Linked DNA regions of Homo sapiens: region 2 is linked to region 1. Evidence: fine-mapped expression QTL. A gene starts in region 1. The other region holds a variant in brackets. All regions are shown on one strand. Distances are from middle to middle.

Region 1 (15,542 bases):
AGTTTTGCCGAAATAGAAACTCCCGCTTTTCTTATAGGAGCTTTGCGGCTCCAGGATTGGATTTAGGTGTCTATTTTGTGTTGATTTGGGGGTATTACATGTTTCAGACCCTGAAATGTTGATTTCTTTGGCATGTTTTTGTCTGATATCCCACAATGGGGGTTGTGTTCAAATTAAGCTGTGGGACATCTTTTAGATACTGAGTTCAAACAGTTCTCACCTTCCTTGATGTTCATTTAGGGGAGAGGTGTCAGAAGGTCTGGGAAGATCCACAGTGGAAAAAGTTTATCTGTATTTCGTGGAGACTGATGGCCAGCTCCCTTCTGCCCAGGACTTCTGGAGAAGGCCAGCCCTACCACTTGCTTAAATACCTCCCATCTCCAGCCCTTCAGTAAATATTTAAGTGATTTGTTAAATATTTAAACCTTAAGAAAATTGAGTAACCCAGTGGAACTTGAATTTAACTAGAATTTAAGTTTGAGAATAGCTGGTCAGTAGAACAAATGTGACATACTATGGGTGACATAGATTGGGTGACATACTATGGCTTTTAAGGGGTTTTGTTTTGTTCTGTTTGTTTTCTTAAGCAGAGTTAACAATAATTTGAATAAAGAAGGAAAACATTAAATGCTTGGCATGTGTAATGTGAATGCTATTCCATAACTTGTTCAGCCATAGCCTCAATTTGACATGCTAGGCTATGAATCCTAAAGACTGGTATATGGTTACCGCACTGGAGTTACTTTTCTCATTCCAACAACTACAGAACATTTTGAATAGTTTTTTAAAATTTTATTTTAACGAAAGTTAAGAAAAAACCCTTACTTATACACTAAAGAAAATAAACATAAAATGGTCTCCCGCCTGACTCACAAAAGTCCCATGGCCTGATCCTGGCCAGCAGGAGCAGTTGGTGATGAGGATCCAGGGCAAGATGCAGCTGAGCTGCCAGCCTCCTAGATGTGGTTCCCTGGTGTCTACGGTCTGGGTGAGGGATGGTGCAGAGCCGGTGTTCTGGCCAGCATCCCGGTGGGTTCCCAGCCACTGCAGGATGTTGCCAGCCTACGGGTTTTCGGGCTCCAGCTGGCAGGACAGCTTGTAGCTGCAGGACAGAGAAGCAGCTGTGAGGCCACCATGAGCCACACATCAGGTCCCCTGTCAGTGCCTGCCCAGCTGGAATCCTGGGTCCCCAGTGGTCCCCATGCAACAGGGCTTGATGCTGGCCGTGGAGGCATGGCCATAGGCTCTCTGCAGCTGGCCACGGGAGAGCCTCCTCTAGGCCAGGTGGGGTGGCTCACACCTGTAACGTCAGTACTTTGGGAGGCTGAGGTGGGTGGATTGCTTGAGGCCAGGAGTTTGAGACGATCCTGGACATCATCGTGAAACCCCATCTGTACCAGAACAACAACAGCAGAACAACCGGACATGGTGGTGTACAGCGGTAGTCCCAGCTGCTTGGGAGGCTGAGGAAGGACTTGAGCCCAGAAGGCAGACGTTGCAGTGAACAGAGATGGTGACACTGCAGTGCAGCCTGGGCGACAGAGCCAGACCATGTTAAAAAAAAAAAATGGAGAGCCTTCTCCCACCCTCAGCCCATGGGCTAGGCCCTCACCTCTCTTTGTCACTGAGCTGCTCCATTCTTGTGAAATAGGTGACAAATTTCTCAAGAGGCCGAAGCCTGTAATTCATGGCAGCCACTTGGAGCAGCTGCATTTCCTGCAGAACTCGGACCTCCTAGAGACAGAGGACAGGATGCTGACAGGGCCTGGGTGGAAGTTGCTGTGGGGGCCTTTGGCAGGCAGGGAGAAGGGGCTGGTCCCTGGGGCAGTTTTCTGAAGGGGTCCCATGCAGCGCCCCCAGCCTGTTCTCAGAGTTGGATATAAACAGCCCCTCCTGCAGGAATTGGTCTTTGATTCCAGTGCTTTTCCCATTTTCTCCTGGGATAGGTCCCCTCCTCCTGTGTGTGTCAAACACTCCCAGTAAGCCTAAGATGTAGAGGATGGAGCCAGGGAGTGTCCTGCCCAGGGTGGACTGTGACGTCCACATCCCCACCCTCATCCAACGTGAGTGCCCCAGCTGCTCACCTTGCTCCTCTTGTTGGTGTTGCCCTGGAAGGCAGACAGAGTCCATCAGAAAGGCCCCTGGCCCACAACCAGCCCCACCCCACCCCTTCCCATGCTGCACTACTGCCAGGGCCACCAGGGTCAGGGGATGTGCACACGACAGGACTTGGACCTGCCTCAGGCTCCGGGCTCTAGAGCAGGGGGAATGGGAGCTGAGGCCCAGGGACCTTCTGCCCCAACCCTCTGTGATGACAGACAGGGAAACTGAGGTCTCTCATAGAAAGAAAGCGCTCAGTGACCTTGGAACTGCCTGCCCTTGGAGAGGCTCAATTTCACCCTCCTATTACGGGACTACCCTAGGGAGAAGCTGAGCCCAGTTCAGCCCACACCTCAGCAGCTTTGCAGTCAGGCAGCTCTGCAGCTTCACCACTCAGGAATAGGGCCTGGTGGCTGCCATGGAGCCTCCATCACTCAGAGGTGATGAGATGGGCCTGACACCCCCACCCACAGGAGCAGCTGTGAGGCTCTTAGGAGAGGAGGTTTGCCAAGGGCTGAGATCTAAAGGCTCGGTCCAGGACCCTCTCCTCCCAAGCTTCAGGATCTTGGTTCCCAAGCACCCTGCCCCAGGCTCACTCACATCCAGGTCGTCCGGGATGGCCGAATCCAGCCTCTGTAACTCAGTCAGAAAATCCCCCAGGAAGGGGACCACACCCTGTGCCAAGGAGGGGTGGGGAGGTGGGAGGGGTAGTGGTGATGAGTATTGGCCCTCAGGTGCCTGCCCAAGGTCCTGTCCCATGAAATCCCATCAGCCCCTGTCTCCCAGAGCCCCCTCCTCAGGTCTCCCGGTTGGAGCAGCCAAAGACCCTCAGCTGCCTTTCCCAATTCTCTGCCTCCTGTATCCCAGCTGACCTCCAAGTCTAGCAAGCACTCCTTGTTAACCTCTATGGTGGGATTTTAACAAGTCACAAAGGCCTGTGGTCCCAGCTTTACCCTTCCCCACATCTAGTCTGAGTCCAGCTTTCCCAGACCCTTCCTCTGGTCTCTCAAATGAAGGTTTTCCAGGCCCAGTGGCCACAGGAGGACAGGGCTGGGGAGGAAGCCCCCGCTGTCTTGATATGGAGGCCTCCAGCTGGCGGGGAAGGGAGCCCTGTCCTCTGATCCCCTGCGGCCCGTCCATGCCACAGGCTCACTCACCTTCTTCTGCCTCCGCAGCCTCATCTGGACTCTCTGGGGGTTCCTCTCCTGGGTGGCCACCTTAAAGCTCCCCGCCTGCCAGGTGTCAGCGACAGGGACAGTGAGGCTCTCCTCCTCTCCCCCAGTTACACCCCAGCCACCCCGCACTTGGATCCCCAGGGAGTGGCGGGAGCCACCTGGCACCGTGCTCATACCACTGGCCCAGATCCACACTCCCTGTGTGTGTCACCCAGTCTTGCAGCCGGGCCTCCCTGAGACTGTTTCCTCTTCTGTAAAGAGTGATGCAAACCACAGCTACCTCACAGGGCCTCTGAGGGCTCAGTTTCCTGTAGCTGTTGCCGTTGTTCTCACCGTCATCCCTCTGAGGAAGAACCAGGCACGAGCACCCTCAAATTGCTTTCTTTTCTTGAACTTCATTTCTACCCTGTGAGGCCTGCACTACAGGCTCAGCATCCCTTCATTTTCCAGATGAGGAAACAGAGGCCCAGAGCGGGCAGTGGCTCCCCAGGGCCCCCAAAGAGAGGACGCCTCCTTCTGCTCCTGGAGGCTCCGTCTCGGCTGCCTTCAGCTCACATCCCAGCACCACCACCCATCAGGGTCGTGTTCTCTGGAGTCTTTGAGTGTCTAGGTCTCCAGCCACATACAGTCGTGATGGGAAAGGGACAGGGCATTTTAGGAGACCTGGTTAAGTGGCACCTGCCTATCCCAGCCCCACTGGAATCTCTGCCACGCAAACTGGGTTTGAGCCATGCCAAAGGCTTCGCCTCGCCAATGATCCCCCAGGGGAGTTCCGTGCACGGAACTCTCTCTTTCTCCACTGAGGAAGTAGCCTCCTGATGCGCCATCTCTGACTGCAATGGCAGGGTTTTCCAGAGTCCTGGGTGGGGTGACATGTTGCCTTCTCATTTGCATGGACGATTCTGAGATCTGGTCAGGGAGGATCCCCTAGCAATGTATGAATCCCCCAGATACTTGTCATGAGCATGCGTCGCTGCTAACCGGTGAGAATCCTCTGACATGACCGTTTTTGGGTGTCTGCAAAGGGCAGAGTGGGGAGTCCCAGCAAACAGCTACGTCTGTCCCCAGTATGCCCATTGGTACCCAAAGCTGGGCAGTTACTGGACTCCCTGCCACATGAGCTTCCTCTGTTGTTGTTCCCCCTCTCCCCCAGTGCAGGCCAAGGCCCCCTGCCCATGGAGGTGTGCTGCAGACAGCAGCAGCAGCAGCAGCAGCAGCAGCAGCAGCAGCAGAGGCCTGGCTTCCTGAGGAATTGCTGGCCGGTTTGAGGAAGGAAGGAAGTCCCACCTACCATGATCACCCTCCAGCCTGGAGGAAGCTCCATGCCAGCAGCATGGACCAGCATGGGAGCCAGAGCCCTGCTAATGCTGCAGCTCATCACCCCTGCTCAGCAGCCCAGCAGCCCAGCAGCCATTGCCACATCCCATTTCCAGGGCCTCCTGCCCCCATGCCCCCACGTGCCCATGGACCGACACACCACTCTTCCTGTTGGCCCAAGGTAGGCATGGAGGGAATTTTTCAAGTCCACTTTTAGTAGGTAAGTCAAAACCAAACAAAATAACCACTCGACACCTGGTCCAATGCCCTTCCAAACTCACTCTTTTCTCTGACCCTTAAACACTTGTCCTGCATCTCCCAGACTCCACTGTACCTTGATCAGTAGGTCCCTCTTCACTGCAGTGTCTTTTTTGCAGAGTTCTTTTAGCTCTTTCATGCTTTTGCTATGGGCAGAGGAAAGAAAGAAGGGTAAATTTGGGAATCAGGGGAGATTTGTGAGTTCCAGTCCCTTTTGTTTGAAAACCCAGTGAATCCCAGCTTACTGGGTGAGAGTTTTCAGTGGAGTCCTCTGATCACAGGGGCTCCAGAGGACCAGGGTGGGACCTCTCATGCTCCTCCCCTGGGCCCCATCTCCACTTCACATGAGCCACTGCGTGTTTACAGTTAGCTTTCAGCTGGACACAGAGTTCCACTGCTGGGTACAAACACCTGAAAGCCTCCAGTTGGCTCCAGTCTGTTCCTGATGGTTAAAAAACCTTAGTCCTGAGTTGGAAATCCTTGCCTAGGAGTCCAGGGCAGCTTAGTGACCACAGCCACCGGCCCATCCCTGCCTCCAGTGTCCCTGGACTCCAAGAACCTTTCAGAGTCATTGAGGGCACATGGGGGGAGACCTGTGAGTCCCTAGGTCAACCCTGATGCTGCCATGGAGAGAGCCCTCCTCACCTGGACACTCCTGCCCACGTCTTGTGTAGCTGACCTATTGGGTTGCTGCACAGAGCAGAGACGATGACGTGCACCGAGGAGAAGTTGTTGAGGCTTAGGCACTCCTGGAGAGGGAAGAATGAGCTGTGCGGTTCAGAGTTGGAGCTTGGCCCACTACAGCCTCAGCCCCCTCTGCTGAGATCTCCCCTCCTGGATGAAGCAGAGGCCTGGGGAGCCTCAGGAGGGCAGACCTGGGGCCGAGTGGATGTCACTCATCTAGGAGGATTTTAGTTCAACCCAAGGAAGACCCCAGGTCGGAAGTGAGCAGCCACCACTGGGCCGTGGGAGTCAAGGTGAGTGAAGCTCTGGCAAGAAGAGCCTAGGGGATGTGCAGGGTCCAGGCCAGAGATACAGATGCCGATCCTGAAAGCCGATGGAGGAGAAGAGGAAGTTCCCCATTTTTAAAGAGGGAATCCCCAGGCCCAACCATAGCTTACCCTGGCCACCTTGATCCAGTGCTCCACCACCCTGGCCCTGTCCCGGGCCCTCATGCTGTGGTCCCCGAGGCAGGAGGTGGTGATGCAGTTGGTGAGCCTGTTGAAGTGTGCGATGGTGGCACGAACTGTGGGTGCCATGTGCTCATTCCCCTTCAGATGTCCTTGGCCCCAGATGCAGCCCAAGCATTCGTGGAGCACCACCTTCTTGAACAGCTCCTTTGGGGGAGGAGGAGAGTGTCACGGACACAGCACACTGCAGCTCAGAGTCACCCACAGTCCCAGGCAGGGACTGAGCTCACAGTCATCCACGGTCTCTGGCAGGAACCAAGCTGGAGCTCAGAAAGCTTTAAAATGGGCTCCAGACTTGTGGGAGTCCCTGGGTTTGGTTTTCTGCCCCCGAGGGACCTGAATGCATCATGGCCTAGAACCCAACAAGGGTGGGAAGAGAGAGTGACATTTTCTCCCAGGCCATCCACACTCTAAGAACTAGAAGGTGGCTCAGGCCTGCCCATCCTGAGGCCTCGTCTTCCTCCCATCCCAATCAGCCCTCTACTACTCCTCTCCGTACCGGTGCACTTTCCTTGTGGCAGCTGCAACTATGGGCTCTGTTTGGGTGTCTACCATAGAATCCAGTATGCATCAGGTACCTAATAAGTGCTGAGGGTAGTGAGGCTCCTGAGCAGCTGGGTGAGTGACCCATGGCCCTGCCTGCCCCACAGTGAGCACCTGCCCTGCCCTGCTTTCTGTCCATCTCCTGTCACTCAGTCTGCACAGTCACTCTGTGCAGCTGGCGCTGGTGATGTCCCATCTCTGCCGTCCACATGCAGACAGGGAAGGCTTGTGGGTGAGGAAACTCATCCAGATCCCACGGTTGGTAAGAAGTGGGGCTGAAATTGGACCGAGGGCATTGGCTGCTCCTCAGGGAGAGGCTGGTCTGAGACAGCTGGTGCCAGAGACACAGCCTGCAAAGCTCAGCTGCTCACCGCATCCATGAGGGTCAGCTGCTCTGCCAGCAGCCTGGGAGGGAAGGTCGTCATGTCAGGCAGCTCCTCACTGGGTTGGTTCTTTACAGACCCACGACAGGGACAGGAGGACTCTGGGGCTGACTGTGGCTCCAGCACTGTCCCTGGAGGGGGCCCTTCCCCTGGTGCTGGTGCTGGCCCTGGTGCTGAATGTAGATATCCTGGTGGACCCAGGGCTGCAGGTGACTCTGGCTCCAGAGCAGGCCCCAGGTCCGCCAGCAGTGGTGGTGCTGGCTCCAGGGCCGGCATTGTTAATGCGTGTTGCCCAGGACGTGGAGCAGGATCTGGAAAAGGAGAAAAGGTCACCACACCAGTCATTTTTCACTGGGTTTTCCAAGCACAGAAATGACCGGGTGGAATTTAAGGGAATTGTAGCCCCAAAACACCACCCCCGGAAAGTCTTGCAGACTGCAAGCCCCCTCACCATCTGGCTTGGCCTCGTTGGGCTCCGGAAGCACCAACTGGCCTAGGACAATTTCCTGATGGTCCTCCAAGCCCAGTCCAGGCCAGGAGAGGTTCCTGAAGGCCAGCTTTATCCGGAAAGATGACCGTTGCGGGGGCTGATAGTAAACTGAAGTGTTTTCGGGGGGCCAGTTGAACAAAATGGAGGTGATGGTGCTGGTGATGGAGTAGACAGCTGAGTCAGAGGCCTGGCCTTCTCCCACACAACCCTCCAGGGCACCCCTGCGTGGTTCTGGGTCCCTGGCCTGTTGCTGCCAGTGTGGAGGACAGCCCCACCCTACCGTAAGCCATCAGTGCTGTCCTGGAAGGGGCAGACCTGGCCATACAGCAGGGCTGTACAGACCCTCGTGCGCCCTGGCGTCCCACAGACATTCTCTTCCCAAAGGCCCTGGAGCACAGCACTGTACACCTGGGCACTCAAGACTGCAGCTGCAGGCAGATTTGTGAGCAGCTTCCTCATCAAAGCTCCAGATCTGGGTCCCCTGGTCCTGGGGTTAGGAGGGAAGGGGCAGATGTCGGGGGGAGGAGGACAGGGAGAGCTGGGAAGCCACGGTGCTGAGGGGGATGGGTCTCTCAGTGGCCAGCTGTGACCCCAGCCTCCCCTCTGCTTTGCAGGGGACCTAAGTCTCCATTTACAGAACTCACTATTTGCCTCTTGTGGGGGAAGTCCCCAGATGTCAGCCTTCTCGTGGGAATTATAAGAAGTATGAGCCCCAGAGCTCCTTTAGTCTCTCCCCAGCCAGAGTCCACATATTTTCCCCCATGTTTTGTGGGTGAAAAGGCCCTTCAGAACCCTAAATCCACCCAGTTTATATTTGTTGCTGGGCTGCGTCATTCTAGTCAGAATCTGGGAGGATGCCACCATACGTAGAGGAGGCCATGAGGGTCTCACCTGTAACATTCTGTAGATATGACTTGTTTATTCTGTCTACTGTGAGTGCCTGACTCTGAGTAGAATCAAGGCCGGGGGATTGTCATCTGCTTTGTTTATGAAATTATGCCAAGCCCCAAGAAGAGCGATGCACAAATGAGGTGTTTTGAATGTATGTGTTGAATGAGTGAACCCCAACCTTTGGAGAACCCCAGTGAGCCTCTCCAGATGTCTGAGTGGGCCTGTGGCTCCTTTTTCAGCACCAAGGGACCCCTCTTCTGTCTGTGTCAAGGAGAAAGACCAGCCAGAAGGAATCTCAGACATCCTTTACCAGTGCCATCGCAGACTTGGTTTCTATGTGTTTTTCCAAACAGTGAGTGATACAGGCCATTGAGGCAGAATGCTGAGAGCTGCTTCAAGTGAGGGGGAAGAGAAAAGTAACAAACATGAATCACAGCACCCCCAGCAGATTTTCCAGAGTTTTAGGCTCTAGGGACCCCTTTGTTTGCTGTGTCTTAGATCATTGAGTCCCTACAAGAACCCTGTGAGGTTCGTCTTCTCACTACTCCCTGTTCCAGAGGAGCCAACCGAGGCTCCGAGAGGTGCATCTTCAAGACAGAGCCAGTAGGGGACAGAGGCACCTCTGTGTCTTGGAGGGGGATGGACACTCACCTTCTAACCAGTAGTTCCAAAAAGTGTGGCACAGTGATAAAGTCCCAGGAGGGGCCCAGGCAGGTGGCATAGGAGGAGATGGGTTTAGTTAGAAAGGCTGGAACCAGGGACTCCCAACAGCTTCTCCCCAGTGCCGGGCTGGAAAGTTAGCATCCTGCAGATCTCATTTTCATACTAGGGGGACAAGGAGGGACATGGGAGTCAGTGGTAACACCATGGACCACCAGAGGATCGGGATCTGGAACTCACACCAAGAAGCACCAACCCTTCAGGGACTTGTGCATATGGAGAACCTGGGTGCCCATGGTGAAAAGCGTTCTAGGCTTTCAAAGTAACATTGCATGTGAGGATGGAGAATGATAAAACGATTCCTGCCTTCAAGGCATCGTCCCGGTGTTTGTCAGCTGTGGGGCAACAGCACCCTCTGTGTCAGCAACCTGCATGAAGAGCATCATCCCTGCAAGTCCTCAAGGCCTGGGGAGGCCTCATCCCCTCCTCATTTCAGCAACAGCACACAGGACAATACGCTCTAGAAGAACTCTTTGACTTAAAGGTATATGATTGTTTTTGTTCCTTTAACATGAACGTGAGTCTGGAGAAACAGCTACGGCCATCCCAGCCCTGGCCAAGGGGAAAATGCCGGAAGACTCCAGGGTGGGAGGAAGCGCGTCCCAAGGCCCAGGATCTGCGAGGCGACTTGGGGAAAACGCAGGCAGGTATTGAACCCGTGAAAGGTTACGCAAATGTATGTTTGAAAGTGGAAATGAAACAAGGATTTTCTCTGCCACACAGACAGCAGGTTGGCGAAAAGTTAAAAGCGTGTTAGTATTCAGGGGAGGCTGCGTTCAGAGAAGCAGCTACCTTCAGAGGCTGCTGGTGACCGTGTGACCAGCTGGAGCCCTTTTGGAAAGTCAACTAGCTAGAGCTGTTGAAAGTTGATATCTGCATATCCTTTCACCCAGATATCCCTTTCCTGGGTGTCTGTCTGCTGCAGGGGATTTGTTTATTTTATGGGTTGAATTGTGTCCCCTTCCCCAAATGTAACTGTTTCTATTCTCAACCCCAGAGACTCAGAATGTGACTGTGTCTGGACACAGAGTACTCCAAGAGGTAATTCAGGTGAAGTGAGTTCATTAGGGTGGCCCCTAATTTAACATGCCTGGGGTTCTTACAAGGAGAGGGGGTCAGCGCACAGAGAAGTTCAAGAGAAGACCCTGTGCTGACTGAGATAGAAGTCCGCCATCTCCAAGGCAAGGAGAGAGGCCCAGAGAAACCACCCCAGGCTGACAGTTTGACGTTGGACTTCCAGTCTCCAGAATTGTGAGGAACCAGATTTCTGTGGTTAAGCCCTTCAGTCAGGGTGCCGTGTTATGGCAGCCCTGGCAAACTGCTCCAGCCTATTAGGACACGCATAGGATTATGCTCCTTGTAGAAAGGCTGCCTCGAAAGGGAATTTTATCATGACAGGCTCCACCAGCACTGAGAGGCTGACCCGCTGTGGAAAATGGCCTCCCTTAAGGAATGTTACAATGACATGCGAGGGTACAACTCCTGCCTGATGGGGCTGCAGGGATGAGTTCTGTGAGATGACACTTTAAAGACTAATGCATAGAGTCGCTTCACCTTCTTTTGTTGTAATCAATGCACCCCCCCCACCCCCACCCCTTGTTTGTGCAAAAGTGTTGGATTTTAAGTCCTGGAGGAGGTCTGGCAGGGCAGCGGAGCTGCCTGCCTGTTGCCGGAGATCCACTTAGGGTGGGGAGTTAAAATGATAACAGTGTGAGTATTTTGCTGCAATGTTACCATTGTACTCAATTCTTAAAGCAACATGCCGAGATACTCCTGGCATAGCCTAAAGTGAAAACAGAAGGATTTTCTCTGGTCTTCCTCTGATAGGTGAAAGGGACTTTGCCTGTAACCAAGTTGCCACTGGGGACTAATGGCAGCCAGATTCCTTTGGGAGAGGACAGTGGGTCACTCAAGTGGGAACGCCCTAGGATGGAGCTTAGGGAGTCCCCATATTCGTGTCTGAGTCCTGGGCCCACCTTGGTTTTCACAAGTCCTGTCTGTGGAGACCCTTCTGTGCCCAATCTCACCGCAGACCGGCACTGGACGTGGTTGGTGGTGTGGTGCACGTGCCCTTTGAAGAATATGGAGAAATTGAATCCATCCAACAGCTCTTGTTTGGTCTGTTGTGTGGAGCTCTGCAAAGAGAGTGCCCGAGAGCCGGGCCAAGAGGTGTCAGTGGCCTGTCTGGCTGACCCCACAGTGGGACACCCCCATTAGAACTCATCCCTGGCACCCCCTTCCCCAACAGGATTTGGCACATAGGAGCATCTGCATAGACCTCCAGCCAGAGAAGCCTGAGGTCTCCGGCAGATGACAGCTTGAGGACTTGGGATTCAGATCTGAGCAGACAAACTGTGTCCTTGACACTCACCTTCCCATCCTGCCAGGCACTGCCTGGGCTGTGAACCTGACATACCTACCAGGCTCCAAACACCTGACAACCTACCTGCTCCTATCCAGGGAGGGCCCCTCATCTCCTGTTTCCCCCAAACAAGTGGGGAGGGGCCTGAGGCTGCCCTGATGGGCACAGCTGAGGCCTAGCCTGGATGGGCCTGCCCTGGGCCCTGTGTTACCTGTGGGTGCCTTCTGGCAAAGGGCCAGAGGCGTCGAGGGTGAGGGTTGAACCAATGTCTATATTCTCGGGAAAGACTCTCATTTTGGCCTCTTGTGCGACGAGGAGGTCGGCAGCATGTCGGGATACAGCAGGAGAACATGTTGTTCTCTCGAGCATCGCCTACGAAGTGAGCTGGAAATGGGGCTGTCTCTAGAATGTGGGTGCCTAGTTACCAGAATTGTAAGTTCTGTTGGGGGTCTGTCGGCAAGGAAGTGAGGTCACATCTTGTAGGTTCCATCCTGTAAGCTCCTCCTTTCCATAAGTCCTACTCAAAGGCCCCTCTGGGCTTCTGACCGCTCACCCTCCCCCGTCAACTCCTTACGTAGTCACCATTATGAAAAAGTGTGCCCCTTCAGCACCTTGGGAAGACCTGGATATAACCAGGGTCCCAGGTTTGAGGAGACAGTGCTGGGTCAAACAGCCTTTATTTTAGCAGTTGTGAGACCCTAGAGAACTCCTTTGGTGTTTTGGGGTCTCCCCAGCATGCACAATGGGGGTTATGCTAGCATCTCTTTCCTAGGGAACTCATGAGGTTATGTTTGAGATAAATATTTAAAAACTCATGGTGTGGTGTTCCCTGTGGATATTGCACACACTTAGAAATGGAACAAATACAAGAAGGGGTGAGAGGTAACGTCTAATGCAACTCCAGTGGGCCTGGGGTCCACAGTGTGATCTCGGGAAAAGACACTTTTGCTCTGGGCCTCATCTTTCATGCTGCACCAGTAGAGGTTGAGATTAAATGAAATTCAGACATCCTCCTCCTATGACATTGCACCTTCCAGTGCCTTCCCATTTTATTTAGACCCAGACCCTGTGCCTCATCTCAGCCTAGGGTGGGCAGCGTCCACAGAGACAGCACTGAGGGGTTAGTGACTCCCTTCTGAATGATGGAATATGACACAGATGATGGAATAGCACTTCTGGGCTAGTTCAGGCTGTTACAGCAAAGAAAGAGCTGTAACGGCCTGGGGAGCTCATCAAAAACAGAACTGTATTTCTCCCTGTTCTGGAGGCTGGAAGTTGGATATCAGAGTAGCAGCGTGGTCGGGCTTAGTGGTGACACTGCCGCCCCATTCATTGAGCTTTTATAGGTGCTGTCCTTTCCTTGGAGGACGCCTCAACTTTAGGAGCATGGGTAGACCTCCATTCAAAGCCCAGCTCCCCCTTGTAGCTTGGTGATCGTGAGGAAGTCATAGAACATCCCTGTGCCTGTTTTCTCCTCTGAGAAATGGCGTTAGTGAGAATTGTTTCCCTTTTTAATCACAGAAAATAAAGCATGCGAAGAAGTTAACTTGGTGCCATTGGGCAGAGGGTGAGAGCCCAGCAAACCGGAGAGATCAGCTGCCCACATCAGTGGCGAGGAGTGCGGAGAGTGGGTGAGGCTGGGGCAGGAAGCAGGCCAGCCTGCCAGAGCCCAGGAACAGGTGAAAGGCAAGAGTGAGCTCCTCACCCTGAATTCTCAGGGTTCACAGGCATGCAGGGGCTGTGGGGAGTACAATCATCAGGGCTGCTCTCGTTCCCCTGGTTCCCTCCATATCTGACGTGGTCCCAGGGCCCCTCTCCCTGTGTTTCCTCTCTGCCCTACTTTCTTTCTGGCTGCCCTCCCAGGACTCATTTTTGGCCCTGGTAAGGTGGAGTCTTGAGGTAACTATAGGCCTATTAATAACTCCTCTGATGTTCAACCTGCCATTTGTTGAGACCTCTGAGCTTAGTCAGAAATCTGCTCCTGCTGGGACCTGAGAGAGGGCTGGAGGGAGCTGACAGTGCAATGGCAGTTTTCCCTGGGGCAGCCACTCCAGGGTCTATTGGCAGGTATCTGCCGAACTGGAGCTTTCTTTTGGGTGTCTGGTGTTCTGAGGTGTGATTTTCCCTCTGAAGATAGGCTGAGCCCCAGGTGGGTGCCTTAGCCTCAGAAATGGGTCCCCCTGAGCTGGGAGCTGTGCTCTACCCTCAGTGTCCTAGGACACCTCACACCTGGCCCTGCCCATTCTGGCTTCCGAAGCCCACAGAGAGGGTCTGTAGAAATTGCTAGATACAAAAGGACTACAAATAAGTCATAGGAAGTGTATTTACATAACGCAGTGGTTTTCAGCCATTACTATATGTTTACTTCAGCAAAGGCAAAATTTAAGAATGTTAATACCCTGTGTCACCCTGCAGAGATTTGGATTTATTTGATGGGGCAGGAGACAGGCATCTTTGGTTTTGTTTTGTTTTGTTTGTTTCTTTTTTGAAAGCGGGACTTTGCAGTGTTGCCCAGGCCATAGTGCAGTGGCATGATCATGGGCACTGCACCCTTGATCTCCCAGGCTCAAGGAATCCTCCCTTCTCTGCCTCTCAAGTAGCTGGGACTATGGGCATGCACCACCATGCCATGCTAATTTTTGTGTTTTTTGTAGAGGTGGGGTCTCACTGTTCCACCCAGGCTGGTCTTAAAAGTCCTAGCCTCAAGCTGTCCTCCTGCCTCAGCCTCCCACAATGCTGAGTTGACAGATGTGAGCCACCATGTCTGGCCTGTTCCTTTGAAGAGCTCCCTTAGTGTTTCTAATGGGCATCCAAGCAAAGAAGATTTTGCTGGCAGAAGGCTCGTGGAACCCTACTGAGGCCGCATCTTCTTCACAGCCAGCAGATCATTCCCTGAAGTATCTGCTTAGCAGTGCACAGGCTATTTATATCCTGGGCTTTGGGTAGCTGTTGGGTTTGGGGACTGGCTGGCGCATGAGTATTGGCTCTGGGATCTGTCACAGCCTGGTCTTGTGGGACACCCAGTCTAGGATCCTCCTTCCCAGACCACCATTGTTCCTCTCACTGCCCCTATGGCAGGAGACCAAAGCCATGACCCCATGGTCAAAGGCATCCATGTGCAGGACTGAAGTTGAGTGACTCATGTGGGGAGGGGCGGGGCACAGCTGCTTGCTGGAAGGGTGTTGGGAAGTATTGGTCCATCAGCTGTCATGTCCACCTTTTCCTGCTGAATCCCAGCGATCCTCAGTGGTCTGAGAAGGGTGTGACACCTGGGTTCTTGGCTGGCTGAGCTGGTGCTTTTGCAGCCTCTTTGGGGCTCTTGTATGTGAGGTCTCACCTGAGTTGCTTCAGGAAACCTTTGACCCTCAGGCTACCTCCTGCTTAAGAGCAGAGCCTTTGTGTGGAGATCTGGCTGGCCTCTCTAGCATCCAGCCTGTCCTGTCCTGTTATGTCTCGGTTTGAGGTTGTGCTGAGGGGTCTCTTCCCATAGAGGAGGCAAGGCCAGTCGTGTGGGTCAGAGTGAAGCATGGCGATCCCAGCTGGCTGTGCCCGGCCTTTGACTGGAGGAGTCTGAGAATGACCAAGTCTGGGGAGCTGCCCTTCCTGGGAAACAGCATGTCTCCTCCCCTATTGTGGAGTTTCTGGATGTGATCCAGAGTGTGCTGGGCCTCTGTAGCATGTGCTGGGTGTAGCTGTGTGATTCAGGGTGGGAGGTGCAGGGGATCATCTGCTCTGAGCCAGATAAGGCCTGGACAGGACTGGCGGGCAGCCCTCGAAGCCAGGTTTGATGGGAGAGTAGGCACGGGTAGGGAGGGGACAGGGTCACCGGGGCTGTGTGTCACCTGTTCTTGCTGCTTTGTCTGCCCTGGGAGTGAGAACAGAGGTGGGCTGCTGTGGACCCACTTTGGCTTCCTGCAAGCAGGTGTTCATGTGGGGAGCAAGGCGGTTGGGTGGGGGACAAAGCTGGTCTCTGAGGTGTTGAGTGGTTCTTTGTCTGTCATTGTCCTTTTTCTCTCTGCCTTCCCCAACAGCTCTGCTGTAGCAGCCCATTGACCAAGTAGGTCACTCAGAGCATCCTGGTCCTACACATAAGCGTTAAGGCCCCTGAAGGGC
Region 2 (15,542 bases), 32 kb after region 1:
AGTATGGCCATTTTCACGATATTGATTCTTCCTATCCATGAGCATGGAATGTTCCTCCATTTGTTTGTATCCTCTTTTATTTCATTGAGCAGTGGTTTGTAGTTCTCCTTGAAGAGGTCCTTCACATCCTTTGTAAGTTGGATTCCTAGGTATTTTATTCTCTTTGAAGCAATTGTGAATGGGAGTTCACTCGTGATTTGGCTCTCTGTTTGTCTGTTATTGGTGTATAAGAATGCTTGTGATTTTTGCACATTGATTTTGTATCCTGAGACTTTGCTGAAGTTGCTTATCAGCTTAAGGAGATTTTGGGCTGAGACGATGGGGTTTTCTAGATAAACAATCATGTCATCTGCAAACAGGGACAATTTGACTTCCTCTTTTCCTAATTGAATGCCCTTTATTTCCTTCTCCTGCCTGATTGCCCTGGCGAGAACTTCCAACACTATGTTGAATAGGAGTGGTGAGAGAGGGCATCCCTGTCTTGTGCCAGTTTTCAAAGGGAATGCTTCCAGTTTTTGTCCATTCACTGTGATATTGGCTGTGGGTTTGTCATAGATTGCTCTTATTATTTTGAGATATGTCCCATCAATACCTAATTTATTGAGAGTTTTTAGCATGAAGTGTTGTTGAATTTTGTCAAAGGCCTTTTCTGCATCTGTTGAGATAATCATGTGGTTTTTGTCTTTGGTTCTGTTTATATGCTGGATTACGTTTATTGATTTTCGTACGTTGAACCAGCCTTGCATCCCAGGGATGAAGCCCACTTGATCATGCTGGATAAGCTTTTTGATGTGCTGCTGGATTCGGTTAGCCAGTATTTTATTGAGGATTTTTGCATCAATGTTCATCAAGGATATTGGTCTAAAATTCTCTTTTTTTGTTGTGTCTCTGCCAGGCTTTGGTATCAGGATGATGCTGGCCTCATAAAATGAGTTAGGGAGGATTCCTTCTTTTTCTGTTGATTGGAATAGTTTCAGAAGGAATGGTACAAGCTCCTCCTTGTACCTCTGGTAGAATTCGGCTGTGAATCCATCTGGTCCTGGACTTTTTTTGGTTGGTAAGCTATTAATTATTGCCTCAATTTCAAAGCTTGTTATTGGTCTATTCAGAGATTCAACTTCTTCTTAGTTTAGTCTTGGGAGGGTGTATGTGCCTAGGGATTTATCCATTTCTTCTAGATTTTCTAGTTTTTTTTTGCGTAGAGGCATTTATAGTATTCTCTGATGGTAGTTTGTATTTCTGTGGGATCGGTGGTGATATCCCCTGTATCATTTTTTATTGCGTCTATTTGATTCTTCCCTGTTTTCTTCTTTATTAGTCTTGCTAGTGGTCTATCAATTTTGTTGATCTTTTCAAAAAACCAGCTCCTGGATTCATTGATTTTTTTTTGAAGGGTTTTTTGTGTCTCTATTTCCTTCAGTTCTGCTCTGATCTTAGTTATTTCTTGCCTTCTGCTAGCTTTTGAATCTGTTTGCTCTTGCTTCTCTAGTTCTTTTAATTGTGATGTTAGGGTGTCAATTTTAGATCTTTCCTGCTTTCTCTTGTGGGCATTTAGTGCTATAAATTTCCCTCTACACACTGCTTTGAACGTGTCCCAGAGATTCTGGTATGTTGTGTCCTTGTTCTCGTTGGTTTCAAAGAACATCTTTATTTCTGCCTTCATTTTGTTATGTACCCAGTAGTCATTCAAGAGCAGGTTGTTCAGTTTCCATGTAGTTGAGTGGTTTTGAGTGAGTTTCTTAATCCTGAGTTCTAGTTCGATTCACTGTGGTCTGAGAGACAGTTTGTTATAACTTCTGTTCTTTTACATTTGCTGAGGAGTGCTTTACTTCCAACTATGTGGTCAATTTTGGAGTAGGTGTGGTGTGGTGCTGAAAAGAATGTATAGTCTGTTGATTTGGGGTGGAGAATTCTGTAGATGTCTATTAGGTCCGCTTGGTGCAGAGCTGAGTTCAATTCCTGGATATCCTTGTTAACTTTCTGTCTCGTTGATCTGTCTAGTGTTGACAGTGGGGTGTTAAAGTCTCCCATTATTATTGTGTGGGAATCTAAGTCTCTTTGTAGGTCACTAAGGACTTGCTTTATGAATCTGGGTACTCCTGTATTGGGTGTATATATATTTAGGATAGTTAGCTCTTCTTGTTGAATTGATCCCTTTACCATTATGTAATGGCCTTCTTTGTCTCTTTTGATCTTTGTTCGTTTAAAGTCTGTTTTATCAGAGACTAGGATTGCAACCCCTGCCTTTTTTTGTTTTCCATTTGCTTGGTAGATCTTCCTCCATCCCTTTATTTTGAGCCTGTGTGTGTCTCTGCACGTGAGATGGGTTTCCTGAATACAGCACACTGATGGGTCCTGACTCTATCCAATTTGCCAGTCTGTGTCTTTTAATCGGAGCATTTAGTGCATTTACATTTAAGGTTAACATTGTTATGTGTGAATTTGATCCTGTCATTATGATGTTAGCTGGTTATTTTGCTCGCTAGTTGATGCACTTTCTTCCTAGCCTCGATGGTCTTTACAATTTGGCATGCTTTTGCAGTGGCTGGTACCAGTTGTTCCTTTCCATGTTTAGTGCTTCCTTCAGGAGCTCTTTTAGGGCAGGCCTGGTGGTGACAAAATCTTTCAGCATTTGCTTGTCTGTAAAGTATTTTATTTCTCCTTCACTTATGAAGCTTAGTTTGGCTGGATATGAAATTCTGGGTTGAAAATTCTTTCCTTTAAGAATGTTGAATATTGGCCCCCACTCTCTTCTGGCTTGTACGGTTTCTGCTGAGAGATCAGCTGTTAGTCTGACGGGCTTCCCTTTGTGGGTAACCCGACCTTTCTCTCTGGCTGCCCTTAACATTTTTTCCTTCATTTCAACTTTGGTGAATCTGACAATTATGTGTATTGGAGTTGCTCTTCTTGAGGAGTATCTTTGTGGCGTTCTCTGTATTTCCTGAATTTGAATGTTGGCCTGCCTTGCTACATTGGGGAAGTTCTCCTGGATAATATCCTGCAGAGTGTTTTCCAACTTGGTTCCATTCTCCCTGTCACTTTCAGGTACACCAATCAGACATAGATTTGGTCTTTTCACATAGTCCCATATTTCTTGGAGGCTTTGTTCCTTTCTTTTTATTCTTTTTTCTCTAAACTTCTCACTTCATTTCATTCATTTCATCTTCCATCACTGATACCTTTTCTTCCAGTAGATCGCATCGGCTACTGAGGCTTGTGCATTCGTCACGTAGTTCTTGTGCCGTGGTTTTCGGCTCCATCAGGTCCTTTAAGGACTTCTCTGCATTGGTTATTCTAGTTAGCCATTCGTCTAATTTTTTTTCAAGGTTTTTAACTTCTTTGCCATTGGTTCGAACTTCCTCCTTTAGCTCCGAGTAGTTTGATCTTCTGAAGCCTTCTTCTCTCAACTCGTCAAAGTCATTCTCTGTCCAGCTTTGTTCCATTGCTGGTGAGGAGCTGCATTCCTTTGGAGGAGGAGAGGCACTCTGATTTTTAGAGTTTCCAGTTTTTCTGCTCTGTTTTTTCCCCATCTTTGTGGTTTTATCTACCTTTGGTCTTTGATGATGGTGACGTACAGATGGGTTTTTGGCGTGGATGTCCTTTCTGTTTGTTAGTTTTCCTTCTAACAGTCAGGACCCTCAGCTGCAGGTCTGTTGGAGTTTGCTGGAGGTCCACTCCAGACCCTGTTTGCCTGGGTATCAGCAGCAGTCGCTGCAGAACAGCGGATATTGGTGAACCGCAAATGCTGCTGCCTGATCATTCTGCTGGAAGTTTTGTCTCAGAGGAGTACCCGGCTGTGTGAAGTGTCAGTCTGCCCCTACTGGGGGTGCCTCTCAGTTAGGCTACTCGGGGGTCACAGACCCACTTGAGGCAGTTTGCCCATCCTCAGATCTGAAGCTGCGTGCTGGAAGAACCACTACTCTCTTCAGAGCTGTCAGACAGGGACATTTAAGTCTGCAGAGGTTACTGCTGCCTTTTGTTTGTCTGTGCCCTGCCCCAAGAGGTGGAGCCTACAGAGGCAGGTAGGCCTCCTTGAGCTGTGGTGGGCCTCACCCAGTTCGAGCTTCCCGGCTGCTTTGTTTACCTACTCAAGCCTCAGCAATGGTGGGTGCCTCTCCCCCAGCCTCGCTGCCGCCTTGCAGTTTGATCTCAGACTGCTGTGCTAGCAATGAGCGAGGCTCCGTGGGCGTAGGACCCTCCGAGCCATGTGCGGGATATAATCTCCTGGTGTGCCGTTTGTTAAGCCCGTTGGAAAAGCACAGTATTGGGTGGGAGTGACCCGATTTTCCAGGTGCCGCCTGTCACCCCTTTCTTTGACTAAGAAAGGGAATTCCCTGACCGCTTGCACTTCCCAGGTGAGGCGATGCCTCGCCCTGCTTCAGCTCACGCACAGTGCGCTGCACCCACTGTCCTGCACCCACTGTCCTGCACCCACTGTCTGGCACTCCCCAGTGAGATGAACCCGGTACCTCAGTTGGAAATGCAGAAATCACTGTCTTCTGCGTCACTCATGCTGGGAGCTGTAGACTGGAGCTGTTCCTATTCGGCCATCTTGGCTCCCAGACCCTTTTTTTTTTTTTTTTTTGAGATAGAGTTTTGCTCTTGTCTTTCAGGCTGGAGTGGGGTGCAATGGTGCAGTCTTGGCTCACTGCAACCTCCACCTCCCAGTTCAAGAGGTTCTCCTGCTTCAGCCTCCCGAGTAGCTGGGACTACCATGCCTGGCTGATTTTTGTGTTATTGGTAGAGACGGGGTTTCACCATGTTCTCCAGACTGGTCTCAAACTCCTGACCTTAGGTGATCCACCCGCCTCAGCCTCCCAAAGTTCTGGGATTACAGGCATGAGCCACTGCGCCCGGCCCATTATATCATTCTTATGTGTTTGCTTCCTCATAGCTTAGCTTTGGTATATAACTGTTTTGGAATTATCATCCTTGGCTACTAGGATCAGTGATAAGGGTGACACTAGTCTGAGGCTGGACAGGCCACTCCTGGGCAGATGTCTTTGCAGAAGTATTTTTTGTGTAAGGTTGTGATGGCCTTTGTGTAATGTTGTGAGTTGTGTTTTTGAGGTAGGGTCTTGCTCTATCACCTGGGCTGGAGTGCAGTTGCACTGTCAAGGCTCACTGTAGCCTCAGCCTCCTGGACTGAAGCAATCCTCTTACCTCAATCCTCTCACCTCAGCCTCCCAAAGTGCTGGGATTACAGGCATGAGCCACCACACCCAGCCGAGAATGGGGCACTTGTGCACGAGAGTCCTCTCTTCATGGCCTTTCCCTGGCTCTATTTTTCAGAGTTGTTTTTTGTTGTTTTGTTTTGTTTTGTTTTGAGATGGAGTCTTGCTCTGTTGCACAGGCTGGAGTGCAGTGGCGGAATCTCGGCTCACTGCAACCTCCGCCTCCTGGGTTCAAGCAATTCTCCCGCCTCAGCCTCCCCAGTAGCTGGGATTACAGGCACCCGCCATCATGCCCAGATAACTTTTGTATTTTTGTAGAGATGGGGTTTCACCATGTTAGTCAGGCTGGTCTCGAACTCCTGACCTCAGGTGATCCACCCACCTCGGCCTCCCAAAGTGCTGGGACTACAGGTGTGAGCCACTGTGTGTGGCCGCAGCTCTATTTTGACAATTTTCACAGTCTCTTCCCACTTCCTGTGGCTGCCAGCATTCATTGGCTTGTGGCTGCCTCACTCCAGTCTCTGTCTCCATGGTCATACTGGTTTCTCCTCTGCTGTGTGTCCTCTCCTCTGTGTGTCTGTCTTACAAGGACACTGTGGTCACATTCAGGGCACATCTAGATAATCCAGGATCATCTCCTCCTCTCAAAATCTTTAACATACTTTAGGCCGGGTGCGGTGGCTCATGCCTGTAATCCCAGCACTTTGGGAGGCTAAGGAGGGTGGATCACTTGAGGTCAGGAGTTGGAGACCAGCCTGGCCAACACAGTAAAACACCATCTCTACTAAAAATACAAAAATTAACTGGGCATGGTGGCGCATGCCTGTATCCTAGCTACTCAGGAGGCTGAGGCAGGAGAATCGCTTCAACCTGGGAGGTGGAGATTGCAGTGAGCCGAGATTGTGCCACACACTCCGGCCTGGGTGATAGAGCAAGACTCACTCTCAAAAAAAAAAAAAAAAAAATGCAAAAAAGGCCGGGCAGGGTAGCTCACACCTGTGATCCCAGCACTTTGGGAGGCCAAGGCAGGCAGATCACTTGAGGCCAGGAATTCGAGGCTAGCCTGAACAACACGGTGAAACCTCATCCCTACTAAAAGTACAAAAAAAATTAGCTGGGCATGGTGGCGAACACCTGTAGTCTCAGGAGACTGAGGCACAAGAATCACTGGAACCTGGGAGGCGGAGGTTGCAGTGAGCTCAGACCACGCCATTGCACTCCAGCCTGGGCAACAGAGTGAGACTCTGTCTCAAAAAAAAAAAAAAAATCTTTAACATACTTTTCCACTTAAGGTATTAGTCACTCTTGTGTTGTATAAGGTAATATCCACAGGTTTTGGGAATTAGGTTTTATCCAGAGGTTTTGGGACCATGTGGCTATTGAGGTCTTGACATATGACTAGGATAACTTTATTTAGTTTAATTAAAAAAAAATTTTTTTTTGAGACAGCCTCACTGTGTTGCCCAGGCTGGAGTGCAGTGGCGTTATCACAGCTCACTGCTCAACCTCCTGGGCTCAAACGATCCTCCCTCCTCAGCCCCGCAAGTAGCTGGAACCGCAGGCATGTGCCACCACACGTGGCTAATATTTAGACTTTTTGTAGAGACTGGGTCTCACTGGTTGTCTAGGGTGGTCTTGAACTTCTGGGCTCAAGTGATCCTCCTGCCTCGACCTCCCAAAGTGCTGGGATTGCAGACCTGAGCTGCCATGCCCAGCCTGGTTTAATTTAATTTTACATACATACATTTATTTATTTATTTAAGATAGGGTCTCACTCTGTCACCCAGGCTGGAGTGCCGTGGTGGAAACACAGCTCGCTGCAGCTTCGACCTCCAGGGCTCAAGCAGTCCTCCCACCTCAGCCTCCCAAGTAGCTGGGAGCACAGTTGTGTTCCACCATGCTTGGCTAATTTTTGTACTTTTTGTAGAGATGGGGTCTTGCTATGTTTCCCAGGCTGGTCTTGAACTCCTAGGCTCAAGCAGTCCTCCCACTTCAGTTTCCCAAAGTGCTGGGATGACAGGCATGAGCCAGTGCACCTGGCCCAAAGTCATATTTTTACTTCTAACGTAGTTCAGCCTTAAGACTGTACCAGCAGATAGAGACGGAAAAGTAAGAAAAAGTGAATATCAGATTACATTTATAAATAAAGCAGTTACTAATTAATATGTTGTTTTTTTAAACCTCCTTTTTAACTCTGGGTTACATCATTCCCTGGCTGTCTTTACCCTAGCATCAGTGAGTCCTGCAGTCACTATAGCCCCCTGCGAGGACAGATATTTTGGTCACCATCAAGTGGATCTTTATTTTTTATCTAACATTTACAATTCTGCCAGTTCTGACTCTTAAATTCTCTTTGCCTTGAATCCCAGGATCCACCTCTGATGTTCAGTGAAGACTACCAGAAAAGTCTGCTAGAGCAGTACCATCTGGGTCTGGATCAAAAACTCAGAAAATACGTGGTTGGAGAGCTCATCTGGAATTTTGCCGATTTCATGACTAACCAGTGTAAGCGGCAGTTTGGCTCATAGGATAATGTACCCGTCCTCATTTTTTCAGGTTGCCTTGCCCATTCTGGACACTTTGATTGTAAGAATATTGGAAACAAAGCGAGGAGCTGGTTTAATCCATGCAGGTTGCGTTGAGGATTTCCTAGGAAAAGTGAGTTGTGCTTAGTAAGTAGGAAAGCAGTCAGGCCCCTGCTTCCCAAATACAGTCAAAAAGCAAACAGGAGAGTCTGCTATAGTGAGATGTAAATGGCTAGCTTGCCTTTTTCTTGTCTATTTCATAGCCAAGGAGGAAGGAAAAACTGGACCTCATGGATTTACTTTAGGAAGGTACAAAGCCTGAGAAGCTTAAGGTATTTCAGTCTGTTTTATATTACTCACTTGCAAAAAGCAGGCTCATCGAATACAGGTGAGTTTCAACACATCTTGAATATGGCAGCATTTAAAAGTCTTTAGACTGGGCATGGTGACTCATGCCTGTAATCCCAGCACTTTGGGAGGCCAAGGTGGGAGGATCATTTGAGGCCAGGAGTTCGAGACCAGTCTGCTAAGCATAGCAAGACCCCTTCTCTACAAAAAGTAAGCAAATTAGCTAGGTGTGGTGGTGTGTTCCTGTAGTTCCAGCTGCTTGGGTGGCTGAGGCAGGCAGATCGCCTGAGCACAGGAGTTGGGGGCTGCAGTGAGCTATGATTACACCACTGCACTTGAGCCAGGGTGACAGAGTGAGACCTGTCTTAAAAAAAAAAAAAAGGGGGTCTTCAAAGACAAGAACATCTGTGCTGTCACGTTGGGTGGATGAGGGGCTGCCAGGTTTGCAATGAATGTTTCCCATTTCTTCTTAGTTTATGGACTTACCATAAACTCAGGATGGCAGTTTGGTGGGTTGGAGAAGGATATGGTGATTGCGGGAGTTACAAGACATTACTTATAGGGGAAAACAGGGTTTTGAAAGGTTAACGCTTAAAAGTGAGAATGGAAAAGGGATGAATGAATGAACAAGATGAGGTGAGATGGAAGAGGTAAAGGGAAAAGGAGAACAAGCAGCTCTTCTCTGCGTGGCGCCTGGGATGAATGGTTTCTGGGGACATCCCTGATGGCAGTTTTGTGGAGAGGCGCAAAACTTTATGTGGTAAGAAATGAGCTGTAGGCCCAGCGCAGTGACCCACGCCTGTAATCCCAGAACTTTGGGAGGCCGAGGAGGGCGGATCACTTGAGGTCAGGAGTTCAAGACCAGCCTGGCCAACATGGAGAAACCTTGTCTCTACTAAAAGTACAAAAATTAGGCAGGCGTGGTGGCAAGTGCCTGTAATCCCAGTTACTCGGAAGGCTAAGGCATGAGAATCGCTTGAACCCGGGAGGTGGAGGTTGCGGTGAGGGAAGATCGCACCTTTGCACTCCAGCCTGGGCAACAAGAGCAAAACTCTGTTTTAAGAAAAAAAAAAAGAAAACAAAAGAAACGGGCCAGGCGGGCTGGGCGCAGTGGGTCAGGCCTGTTATCCCAGCACTTTGGGAAGCCGAGGTGGGCGGATCACGAGGTCAGGAGTTGGAGACCAGCCTGGCCAACATGGTGAAATCCCGTCTCTACTAAAAATACAAAAATTATCTGGGCATGGTGGCTGCTGCCTGTAATTCCAGATACTTGTTAGGCTGAGGCAGAATTGCTTGAATCCAGGCAAGTGAAGGTTGCAGTGAGGCCACTGCACTCCAGTCTGGGCAACAGAGTGAGACTCCATATCTAAAAATAAAATAAAATGGAGGAGGAGGAAGAGGAAGAGGAGAAAAAAGAAGAAGAAACAGCTAGGTGCAGTGGCTCATGCCTGTAATCTCAGCAATTTGGGAGGTGGAGGAGGAGCAGGAGGAGGAAAAGGAAACAACCAGGCCAGTCATGGTGTCTCGTGCCTACGAGGAGGAGGAGGAAGCGGAGGAGGGG[A/GA]AAAAAAAGGAGGAGGAAAAAGAAACGGAGCAGAAGGAGTTGGAGGAGGAGGAGGTGGAGGAGGAGGAGGGAAAAGAAATGGAGCAGGAGGAGGAGGGAAAAGAAATGGAAGAGGAGGAGCAGGAGGAAAATGAAATGGAGGAGGAGGAGGAGGAAAAAGAAATGGAGGAGGAAAAAGAAACAGGAGGAGGAAAAAGAAACGGAGGAGGAAGAGGAGGAGGAGGACAAAGAAACAGCCAGGCCGGACGTGGTGGCTCACCCCTGTAGTCCCAGCTGCTCGGGAGGCTGAGGCAGAAGAATCGCTTCAACCCGGGAGGCAGAGTTTGCGTGAGCCGAGATCGTGCCACTGCATTCCAGCCTGGAGACAGAGTGAGACTCCATCTCATCTCAAAAAAAACAAAAGAAAACAAAACAAAAACAAAAAAACAGCCAGGAGCCGTGGCTCACGCCTGTAATCCTAGCAATTTGGGAGGCGATAAGAATTATTGAAATGCAATAAGAATTACCGAAATGTTGAACAAAGACACCAAGTGAGCACGTGCTGTTGGAAAAATAGCACCAATACTACACTAGCTCAACACAAGGTTGCCACAATCCTGTAATATATTAAAAATTGGGCCAGGCAAGGGGCCGGGAGGGGTGGCTCACACCTGTAATCTCAGCACTTTGGGAGGCCAAGGCAGGCGGATCACCTGAGGTCAGGAGCTCCAGACCAGCCTGGCCAACATGGTAAAACCCCATCTCTACTAAAAATACAAAAATTGGCTGGGGGTGGTGGTGGGTGCCTGTAATCCTAGCTACTATGTAGGCTGAGGCAGGAGAACCACTTGAACCCGGGAGGTGGAGGTTACAGTGAGCCAAGATCATGCCATGGCACTCCAGCCTGGGTGACAAGAGCAAAACTTCATCTCAAAAAAAAAGAAAAGAAAAGAAAAACAAAATGGGCCAGGCGGGCTGGGTGCAGTGGCTCATGCCTGTAATTCCGGCACCTTTGGGAGGCTGAGATGGGTGGATCACGAGGTCAGAAGTTTGAGACCAGCCTGGCCAACATGGTGAAACCACATCTCTACTAAAAATAGAAAAATTATCCTGGCGTGGTGGCAAGCGCTTGTAATCCCAGCTACTCGGGAGGTTGAGGCAGGAGAATTGCTTGAACCTGGGAGGTGGAGGTTGTAGTGAGTGAAGATCTTGCCACTGCACTCCAGCCTGGGCAACAGCCAGACTCTGTCTCAAAACAAACCAACACAAACAAACAAAAACAAACCCCAAAACCAAAATTGATATTTCCCGTGTACATTCGACCTTGACTGTTGCTCATTCAACCCAGCCCAACTCAGTGCCCCATCCCCTGGCCCTGAAGAGACCATTCTGGCCCAGAAGTGTCCTGGCTCGGAGCAGCACCTTCTGCTACCACACTGGGCCTCCCTTCTCCTCAGTGCCCAAGGGGAGGCACCTCACTCTGATCTCCCAGTGGCATCCTATTATGCCTGCCAGTAAGGATAGGCGCTTGGTCCTAGAGCAGAGTGGTCTGCCGTTGGACCAGCCCAGCACTCCAGGTGACCTCAGCCTGCCCCAGGCCTTCCTGTAGGTTGGCACTAATTGGTTTGGCTGCAGCCTTGCATATTTAGCAGTTTTTATTACTAATAATACAGGCAGGGTGGCCCAGGACCCCGCTGGGGGAGGTACTGCCAGGCTCCCAGCTGAGGGGCAGGCTGGCTCCAATTCTGACTGGCTGGCCCCAGTGATCAGAAAGATCCAGGCCCCACCTAGTGCTTTGCTGGAGATCTAGGCTTGGTGGGGCAGCTTGTGGGGTAAGGGGCAGGACCAGCTCAAAAGACGGGGTGGGGGCGGAGGCTCCCTCTGCAGGGCAGAGTCCTTTGGCAGCTGGGGCTGTTGGGCATGGAGGGGTCAGTTCACAGCTCAGGGCCAGAGCACGGTAGAGGTCTCTGGGTGCACACAAGAACCAGGAGTGGAGCTGAAACATGTCCTGTCCCCTGCCTGCCCTCCCTTAGTAACTGCTGGCATTTCCCAATTCCTTCCTGAGCACCAGGCACCATGTTATGCATGCAATTTGCAAATGTTACCTGATTGAATGCTCAAAACAAGGCTATCACATAGGTACTGTATTATTTTTCAGAAGATGTCTTGCTCTGTCACCCAGGCTGGAGTGCAATGGTGCCATCTCTGTTCACTGCAACCTCCACCTCCAGGGTTCAGGTGAATCTCCTGCTTCAGACTTTCAAGTAGCTGGGACTATAGCTGCCCGCCACTGCGCCTGGCTAATTTTTGTATTTTCAGTAAAGACAGGGTTTCCCCATGTTGGCCGGGCTGGTCTCAAACTCCTGACCTCAAGGGATCCACCCATCTGGGCCTCCCAACCCTGAGTTTTTATAATAGGCCCCAGGCCAGGTGGTTAACAGAGGTCTGGGGCATTGCAGGGGGACAGAGGAGGACATATGTCCCTATTGGCCATTGTAGAGTCCCTTCCACAAAAAGGATGTCAGTCAAGTGACGTGCCCACCTCCACCCCACCCTCCCCCCCAGTCCTGGGCACTAGGACTACTTCCCAGGTGCCCTGTACCCTTCCCCGATCTGTCCCATGCCCTGGCCTCTGCCCGCTTTCAAAACATAGATGTGGCCAGCGCCTTGGCTTATGCCTATAATCCCAGCACTTTCGGAAGCAGAAGGATTGCTTGAGCCCAGGAGTTCAAGACCAGCCTGGGCAACATAGATCCTGTCTCAACATATTTTCTGCAAAATTTTTGTTTTTCCTAGACAGAGTCTCCTTCTGTCACCCAGGCTGGAGTGCAGTGGCACGATCTTGGCTCACTGCAACCTCTGCCTCCCGGGTTCAAGCGATTCTCCTGCCAAGCCTCCTGAGTAGCTGGGACTACAGGCGAGCACCACCATGCCCAGCTAATTTTTGTATTTTTAGTAGAGACAGGATTTCACCATGTTAGCCAGGATGGTCTCGATCTCCTGACCTCGTGATCCACCTGTCTCGGCCTCCCAAAGTTCTGGGATTACAGGTGTGAGCCACCGCACCCAGCCCTACAAAATTTTTCAAAAATGTATAGGTGTGGTGGCACATGCTTGTAGTCCGAACTACTGGGGAAGCTGAGACAGGAGGATTGGTTGAGCCCAGGAGTTTGAGGCCACAGTAAACTGTGATGGCACCACTGCACTCCAGCCTGGGTAACAGAGTGAGACCCTGTCTCTAAAAAAGAATTAAAATTTTTTTTAAATAACAAAATGGGCTGGGCTCGGTGGCTCATGCCTGTAATCCCAGCACTTTGGAGGCTGAGGTGTGTGGATCACTTGAGGCCAGGAGTTCAAGACCAGTCTGGCCAACATGGTGAAATCCCGTCTCTACTAAAAATACAAAACTCAACCAGGTGTGATGGCACATACCTGTAATTCTAGCTACTTGGGAGGCTGAGGCAGGAGAATCGGCTTGAACCTGGGACACGGAGGTTGCAGTGAGCCGAGATCGCACCACTGCACTCCAGCCTGGGCGACCAAGTGAGACTCCGTGTCTCAAAAATAAGAACAAAATGTAGATGCCTACGTACCATCTCTCTACCCTTGGCTCCTGGGGAGTAAGGGTCACCCAGTGACCTCCTAGAAGGCCAGTGACAATGGGGGGTGTCAGAGTGCTCTTCAGAGCCAAGGGAGCAGTAGGAATTGGGATCTTAGTCTCTTAGTCTGACTCCAAGCTGTGAGGGAGAGAGTTGCAGGGCACTTAAGCTTGGTGGAGACCGTCAGTGCCTCCTTGCCTGTCCCTGCAGCAAAAGTTCAGGACACCAGAGCCAAGCTCAGAGGCCGTGGTGGAACAGGGGTGAAGAGCATGGGTTCTGACTTTAAACTGCTGGGCTGCAGCCCTGGCTCTCCCTCCCCGGGTAAGGGCAGGCTGCATGCCTCCCTGTGCCTCAGTTTCCCCCTCTTCATAGTGGGATTGTATTGGTGCCTACCCCAGAGAGTTGTGTCATCAATTAGGATGGCACCTGGCACCTTGGTCAGTGGCAGGAAAGGTTCCAGAAGCTCTGCTCTGGTCCCGGGGTGCCTCGGGCCCTGCCACCATCTCCTTGGGGTGGTGCCATGTGGTGGGAAAGACCCCAACTTCAAGGCCAGACGCAGTGGCTCATGCCCATAATCCCAGCACTTTCAGAGGCCGAGATGGGAGGATCACCTGAGGTCAGGAGTTCAAGACCAGCCTGGCCAACATGGTCAAACCCTGTCTGTACTAATGATCCAAAAATTAGCCAGGTGTGGTGGTGCGTGTCTGTAATACCAGCTACTCGGGAGGCTGAGGCAGGAGAATCTCACGAACCCGGGAGGCGGAGGTTGCAGTGAGCCGAGGTTGCACTACTGCAGTCCAGCCTGGCTCTGTCTTGGTGTTCAGCCATGTTCCCATGCTCACTCCCAAGGTGACTCTGGGAAGGTCTCAGCCTTTTTGTCTTCCCAGTTAGGATGGTCCCATGCCCCTGCTACCATCAGACTTGGTAAGTTTCCCAAGGAGACTCTGCAAGAGGCACTGTTCTGGATGGTGGAGGAGAGACTAATTGTTCTGCTCTCCTGGCCAGAGTGGGTGCAGTGGACCCCATCATGGAGAAGTTCAACACATCCAGCCTACGACCAGCACCTGTGGGAGGTGGATATTCAAGGCAGCAGAGCCTACAGCCGGGGCATGGAGAAGGCAGGGCTCCTCGCCAAGGCCGAGATGGATGGTTTTACGTTGAACTAATTATATACTCAAGTGCTGTTTAACTGTGTGCCTTGACCTCTTCTCTCCTTTAATGATCCCTGTGGCCCACATGGCTTATGGGTAAAGGTGTGCTGGGCTCGAGATGCCCCCTCCCAGGGTGCACTTCCAGGACTCAGCTCCTGGACAGGGACAGTCAGTCATCAGGAATAAGGTGGGATCAGGGCAGGGGCTCTCGGCTGCTGATGCCTGCTCACCTGACCCCTGGTATTGCTGCTACGTGCTATAGGTGGTTGAGGAGTGGGCCCAGGGCACCTTCAAACTCAACCCCAATGATGAGGACATCCACACAGCCAACAAGTGCCACCTGAAGGTACGAACCCTGCAGCCCCACTGCCTTCCTGGCCTCCCCTCTCCACCTTGCGCGGGGCCACTTTGAGCATTAGCACCATCATTCTGTGATCATTGGTGAAACCGCAGGGAAGGCGCACATGGGATGGAGCTGGAATGACCAGGTGCCTCTAGCCCCTCCACCCCCCAACTCCATGCTGTCCCAACCTTGGGGAGCCCAGGGGGCAGTCAGAGCTCAGCAGTGGTCCTGGCTCCCCAGGGAAGTAATATGTCAGTTTCCCTGAGCACTACCTCCTTTTCGCACAGGTGGTCACGGACCTCAGGTTGTGGATGTGGCAGACCTGCTTCACGCTCTCGGGCCTCCTCTGGGAGCTCATCAGGACTATGGGGGATTGGGCAGAGGTGTGAGTACCCAAGGGACACCCAGGGGGCAGAGAGAGGTGTGATGGCAGCCTGAACAGCAGACCTAGGTGGCAGGGGTGAACAGGGTGGGGGTGCCAGGCCCTGGGGGACCGGGGCATCCCAAAACTCCAGGGTCGAGGCAGAGCAGCCAGGAGTGGGGCATTTCCTGCAGACGGCAATATTCCCATGGCAGTCTAGCTCAGCTGGCAAGGAAAACTCACCCTTCATGGGGCCGGTGCAGGGGTTCATGCCTGTAATCCCAGCACTTTGGGAGGCCGAGGCAGGTGGGTCAGGAGTTCGAGACCAGCCTGGCCAACATGGTGAAACTCTTTATCTTTACTAAAAATACAAAAATTAGGCAGGTGTGGTGGTGGGCGCCTGTAATCCAATCTACTCAGGAGACTGAGGCAGGACAACTGCTTGAACCCAGGAAGCAGAGGTTGCAGTGAGCTAAGATTGAGCCACTGCCAGCCTGGGCG

Evidence for each region. PIP is the estimated chance that this variant, and not a neighbour inherited with it, causes the effect.
Region 2: its variant is the best candidate, but not a certain one, in a credible set for the expression of RGL4 in whole blood (INTERVAL, PIP 0.53).

Annotation. Positions count from the first base shown.
Region 1 is chr22:23,684,404-23,699,945 of GRCh38, reverse strand. RGL4 (ral guanine nucleotide dissociation stimulator like 4) reads right to left here and starts at 8,933. Exons shown (of 11, transcript NM_153615.2): 1 at 7,737-8,933; 2 at 7,418-7,611; 3 at 6,955-7,277; 4 at 5,972-6,187; 5 at 5,496-5,599; 6 at 4,927-4,996; 7 at 3,258-3,332; 8 at 2,701-2,775; 9 at 2,085-2,108; 10 at 1,613-1,734; 11 at 778-1,102. The coding sequence starts at 7,915. The coding sequence ends at 1,063. It also overlaps the pseudogene GUSBP11. RefSeq lists enhancers at 3,212-3,291, 4,026-4,526 and a silencer at 14,490-14,784.
Region 2 is chr22:23,652,002-23,667,543 of GRCh38, reverse strand. It overlaps the pseudogene GUSBP11 and the pseudogene ASLP1. Among named protein-coding and RNA genes, the nearest start is that of DRICH1, 27 kb to the right of the region's middle. The variant A/GA (reference allele first, on the strand shown) is at 9,609.